2 separate regions of the Homo sapiens genome follow, and region 1 is linked to region 2. Evidence: fine-mapped expression QTL. A gene starts in region 2. The other region holds a variant in brackets. All regions are shown on one strand. Distances are between the middles of the regions. Region 1 overlaps PRIM2 (DNA primase subunit 2). Region 2 holds the start of PRIM2 (DNA primase subunit 2).

Evidence for each region. PIP is the estimated chance that this variant, and not a neighbour inherited with it, causes the effect. A credible set is the group of variants that fine-mapping cannot tell apart.
Region 1: its variant is the best candidate, but not a certain one, in a credible set for the expression of PRIM2 in whole blood (TOPMed, PIP 0.87).

Annotation. Positions count from the first base shown.
Region 1 is chr6:57,340,440-57,343,357 of GRCh38, forward strand. The region is part of intron 5 of PRIM2 (DNA primase subunit 2); the gene reads left to right. Among named protein-coding and RNA genes, the nearest start is that of PRIM2, 24 kb to the left of the region's middle. The variant T/C (reference allele first, on the strand shown) is at 1,708.
Region 2 is chr6:57,315,911-57,318,828 of GRCh38, forward strand. It overlaps PRIM2 (DNA primase subunit 2), which reads left to right and starts at 1,720. Exons shown (of 14, transcript NM_000947.5): 1 at 1,720-1,791; 2 at 2,527-2,689. The coding sequence starts at 2,536. RefSeq lists a silencer at 805-854.

The DNA of each region.
Region 1 (2,918 bases), 25 kb after region 2:
AGACTTGGAACCAACCCAAATGTCCAACAATGATAGACTGGATTAAGTAAATGTGGCACATATACACCATGGAATACTATGCAGCCATAAAAAATGATGAGTTCATGTCCTTTGTAGGGACATGGATGAAATTGGAAATCATCATTCTCAGTAAACTATCACAAGAACAAAAAACCAAACACCACATATTCTCACTCATAGGTGGGAATTGAACAATGAGAACACATGGACACAGCAAGGGGAACATCACACTCTGGGGACTGTTGTGGGGTGGGGGTAGGGGTGAGGGATAGCATTAGGAGATATACCTAATGCTAAATGACGAGTTAGTGGGTGCAGCACACCAGCATGGCACATGTATACATATGTAACAAACCTGCACATTGTGCACATGTACCCTAAAACTTAAAGTATAATAATAATTTAAAAAAATGGTGTTGAGTCTTTTTGTTTTAGGAAACAGGAATTTATGGGAAATGTATGCAGTTTTAACAAGAGTGTTGGTGTTTAAAATTACTCTAGTTGCTTCTAGTCTGTTTGCCATATTTTATTTATTTATAAATTTATATCCTGTTTCACTTTGCTAATCATTTGAGGTGCATTATAATGAACCTGTGCATTAAAGTAAGATGCATAAATTTGGATAAACTTGAAAGATTGGCTGAAGTGATGATTAATATCCGTATGTATACATCCCAGTGTGGTGTTATACAGCTTCTAAAGGGAGCAGTAACTTTGCCTTCTTGTGTGACTATTTTGATTTTTCTAGTTCAGTGATTCTCAGTGGGGGGATAGGATGGAGAGGTAGTCCTCCTAGGGTGTTTATTAGAACGTCGGTGGAGGTTAGTATAGAGTATAGAAAACATTATGCCTTATGTTTTTGAAATATAAACCATAGAATGTAAAGCTTGATCAAGTATTTGTGGCTGATGGGGATTCATGGAAGATAGAGTAACAAAGTATTGCAGAGGGCTTGACAGAATAACCATTCCCGTGATAGTCTGCAATCACTTTCCAGGCAGAGACCTTTTCCCATCTTTTTCATGGACTCTCCCATGGCATCTGATACTGGTAATTAAGGCACTTGAATTCAGGTGCTGTTGATTAGCTTGTCCCCAGGTCTCTGTAAGCTCTTTCCATTTCATTGTAGGCTTTCCCAATTTTTATCATTTCATTAATAGGAACATGCACACTTTCATCACTTTGGTTAGAATATTTAGTTTGCATTTGAAAACTGCTATAGCTAGTCAGGTATCAGTGATGCTTTTAGACTCATGACAAAGCAAGGTTTGGGGAAAAGTTACTAGCATTTGTTTCATGAGGTGGTGTCTGATGTGTGACCTGCTGCCTAAGTCAGGTGCTGCTGCATAAGTTGAGGTGGAAGGAAACAGCAGGGAGTGGGCAGCCACGGGGCCATCTTGTTTGTCACAGAAGCTGGATTGTTGGCACACATGTCTTTGAGTCAACCTGGACTTAAAGTGCTTGTGTGCTGTGTTTGTGTGCATTTCTCTGTCTTTTCGGTTTCCTCAATGCTGCAGTTGCTTTTATGTTGATCTACTTCTGTAAAATAAATATATTTTTACCTTAGGAGGAGATGCAGTGTTATACCTGAGTTGTATTGTGTCCTTCGATGGAGAAATATGTACATAAAAAGGGATCATTAATTTCTGGTGTTCTATTACTGACTTGGGCAGTGCATTGATACTT[T/C]TTTAGTCTATACTGGGTTTCTGGTGGATAGTAGATTCTGAATCCTTATCATGTAGTATAGGAAGCCTTAATATGAAGTGTTCAAAAAGGAAACTGATATTTTTCATTCTTTGACCTATATGTAAATAAATTGGATTTTAAATCTGAAATTTCTAAGGCGTTTCAATGAGTAAATATTGCTGTCCATGGTGACTATTTTGCATCTCCCACTGCTGAGTTGATTGACTTAACCTTGGTCACATTAAAGGTGAATGGGTAAGGTTAAACAGATTCTATTAATGTTTCTTCAGTTGGCCAGTTAGGGAAAGGTCAGCTTTGGCAGCTGTCAGCCTTACAGACAAAGGGTTTCTGTGCTCTCGCAGTCTAGAGTCTGACAGCAGCTTCTAATTTACTTGGATGCTTTTTAAAACCTCCTTAAGACAGTCAAGAAATATTTCTTATTGGCTTTGCAATACCAGTGGGTCTAATGGTAGGATGCTTTTCATTAGAGTACTACAGAATGGCAGGGACAGTGAAAATGAGCATTCTTAAAGATGTGGAAGAATATTCTGTGTGTCACAAATGATGACTCTACCTCATATTAAAAAGACCTAGTGTTCAGTTGCTATTTATGTTCAGGGAAGTGAGGGCTTTTGGGTGAAGGCAAGTGAAGTTGGTAACCTCGTTGCCTCACTAAAAACAAGTACACGTAAAACTTTGAATTACTTCTGTTTATTTAAAAGTAGTTTTTCTTATCCTGAGCCTGACATCTAAAATTTGTTTCTCATCCCTTTTAGTTTAAAGCCTTAATTTCTTTTATCTTAGAAATTATTTCATGTCATTCTTGGTTGGTAATTACTTTTCAGTGAGGATGAATTCAAGTTTAATTTGTCATTTGTTATTGAAAATGTCAATTATGAATTTATTAGGAGCCTTTGGAGGCTTTTCTCCAGTTAACATTGGAACATTGAGTTTACGTTGATTTAATAGTTTTAGGTGTATTGAATTTTAAAATACTTTTGGTATTCTGTCTTGATTTCTGAGATACTGCAAGTTGGCCTTAAATAGTCATAGTTTTTTGATCATTTTGGCCCTTACTGTGTTGTTTTTATTGTTTATTGGTATAGTTTGGGTTGTCATAGTTCGTTTCGAATGTGTATTCATTATCATGACCTACTCCATTTCTATTATGTAAAATATGAACATCCCATGCATTGATATACATGACTCTC
Region 2 (2,918 bases):
GCAGTTTATATGCTTTCAGGTGTCTTCTTTGGACCACGTGATGTATTTGTATTACGTATTTGTATTATGTATTTAATACAGAGAGGAAGAAATGAGGTGAAGCTCTGCTGTCATATTACTGGAATTGGTGTAGTGAGATCGTTAGCACAGTGGGGCCTGGAGAGTTTCTCTGGGTTTGAACATGGCTCTGACATTTTGTGTCCTTTTGACTTCATTTAACTTCTCTGTTCTTCAGTTTCCGTATCTAGAAAATACGTTTAATATAATAACCTTTGGGAGGCCGAGGTGGGCGGATCACGAGGTCAGGAGTTCGAGACCAGCTTGCCAACATGGTGAAACCCCATCTTTACTAAAAATACAAAAATTAGCCAGGCGCCTGTAATCCCAGCTATTTGGGAGGCTGAGGCAGGAGAATCGCTTGAATCCCGGAGGCGGAGGTTGCAGTGAGCCAAGATCGCTCCACTGCACTCCAGCCTGGGCGACAGAACAAGACTCTGTCTCGGGTATTGGTGGTGGGTCGGGGGGAATAACCTATCTTATGTGGTTATGATAATAAAATGAGTTGATATGTAAACCACTTAGAACAGGTCCTGATATAAAGTCAGTGCCAGCCACAGTTTAGTCCAGGCTGGGTAGATGCTTTGAAGCTTGATATTGTTTCAATGTACTTTGCATTTCTAAAAACGTGAACATTTCAAAGCATTCATTTGATCTCCTAAGGACTACCTATACCGGAGCCTCATTCCAGCACATTTGTAAGCGAGGCACGCCTCCTAGAGGCCACGAGTGAAGTTAATTTCCAGTTCTCGAAAATCTTACAGACAGCGGAGAACTGGTGTGGTGGCTCTGACGCCCCGCTTGTGAGTCTGCAGTCGGACATCTGGAAAGTAAGCGGCACGTCCGCGTGATTTCCAGTGCTTCATCTTCTTCCACCCTACCTTCCCTCCGAGGCTGGGTTCTTCTAATTCCTGTAGATTGCAGAGCGATTCCTGCGAATGTGCCTTCTTTCATTCATTCTAGTTCATTCCACAGATAATTCAGCTGCGCGCTTCCTCTGTGCGAGGCATTGCCGGAGAGCGGGGAGCGAATTGAACGTGGAACCTGCCAGTAGGGGCTTGCCGCCCAATACGAAATTCAAAATATGTATTGTATGTAGACGGGCAAACTAACGAGGATCTTGTAACTTGTTTTCTCATCTGCCAAATGGGGGTAATACGATCTTATAGGACCTTATAGGTCGCTGAAAGATTAAACGAGCGGAAAAAAAAGAGCCCCTAATAGTGAGCTAGGTGCAAAAAAGATCCTAATGCCTTTTTTCCTCATTCCTCCCCAGATTGAAAGTGATGAGTGCCAGCCCTGAGGGTTAAAGCGCCATATTTTCCTCAATATAGGGAATATTTGTTAGTGTCCCCAGACGAAGTTACATTGGTTCAATTTTCGGCGTGTGGGAGTTTTCGCCACTAGCATTCAGCACCCCAGTTTCAACCGTTAAAGCTACCGACTCCACATACAGGAAATGCATCTTAAAATTTGGAAAAAAAATCCCCAAAACACTGACATCCAAACACTTTAAAGCTGCCAAGGTGGACGGAACACCTTGAATTCCCAGACGCGCTCCACTGAGCATGCCCAGAGCCTCAGGCCAAACCCCCTCCTACCCGCCAAGGGGAGGTGGGGCAGGGCTGGCCTTCTGTGCTAGTCACTTCCTCTTCCGGTTTCATATGAACTCTCCCGCCACCCGGGAACAGTGGCTGCCACCGTTTGTGTTTTCCCGAGTTTGAATTCTTGCAGGTAGGGGAAACTTCCGCGAATTTAGGACAGAGAGCAATCCTGTTATTAAGGCTTGCAAGTCGAGAGAAAGGAGAGATGGATCACTTTGCAGGCAGCAGTAGCAGAAGGACAGACTTGGCGGGTTGGTTGTTTGGGGCAGACACCCAGGTACCAGGGAGGAGTTGGGGAGAGATAGGTTTGCCAGTGGAGTGAGGAGGGGTGTTGGGGATGGAACTTTTGTAAGGCACTTGTGGATGCTCCCGAAAAGGAGTTCCGAAAGACAGTTGCTCTGTTTCCCAGAGTCATAACAGAGGAAGTGAGTAACTGGACCCAGTCCATCAAGTAAGACCCTCATTTAGCCAGAACCTACAGCACTTTCCTCTAAGTTCAGGATTGCAGACCACGTAAAACCTTATGTTAACTCTTGGGATCGTAAAGATCCAAGAACAGTGACACACAGGCCTATAATGAGCAGGCAACATCACCTGACTTTCATGTTGCTGAAAATTAGGATCACCACCTGCATCTGCTCTAGCGCCTCTCCCACCCCCATTACAAAATTATTATAGGTGTATTGTAGAAAATCTGGAAACGAGAGAAGGACATCACCCAGGAATTGCCACTGCTAACATTTTGTGCATGCCCTCAAATCCATTTTTTTTCTGTGTTTGTGGAATTATTTTTTCGTGTTTTTTCTTTTTTTTCCCCCAACTTTGTTTTCCATCATTTTACGCTTTTTGTGTACTTCCTTCTAAGGTGACCAAGATGGAGTTTTCTGGAAGAAAGTGGAGGAAGCTGAGGTTGGCAGGTGACCAGAGGAATGCTTCCTACCCTCATTGCCTTCAGTTTTACTTGCAGCCACCTTCTGAAAACATATCTTTAATAGAATTTGAAAACTTGGCTATTGATAGAGTTAAATGTAAGTACTATTTAAATTAGAATGTATATATTCTTGAGAAGCTCACTTACCCTTTGTGAGAATGAATGAAGGTAATTCATTTCCTTCATTCAGCAATCCATTCAACAAGTATTTATTGAGGTAATTCATATCCTTCATTCAGCAATCCATTCAACAAATATTTGTTGAGGGTTTGGTACTCATTCATTTATTTATTGTACAATGCATATTATTGAGTGCCATTATGTTC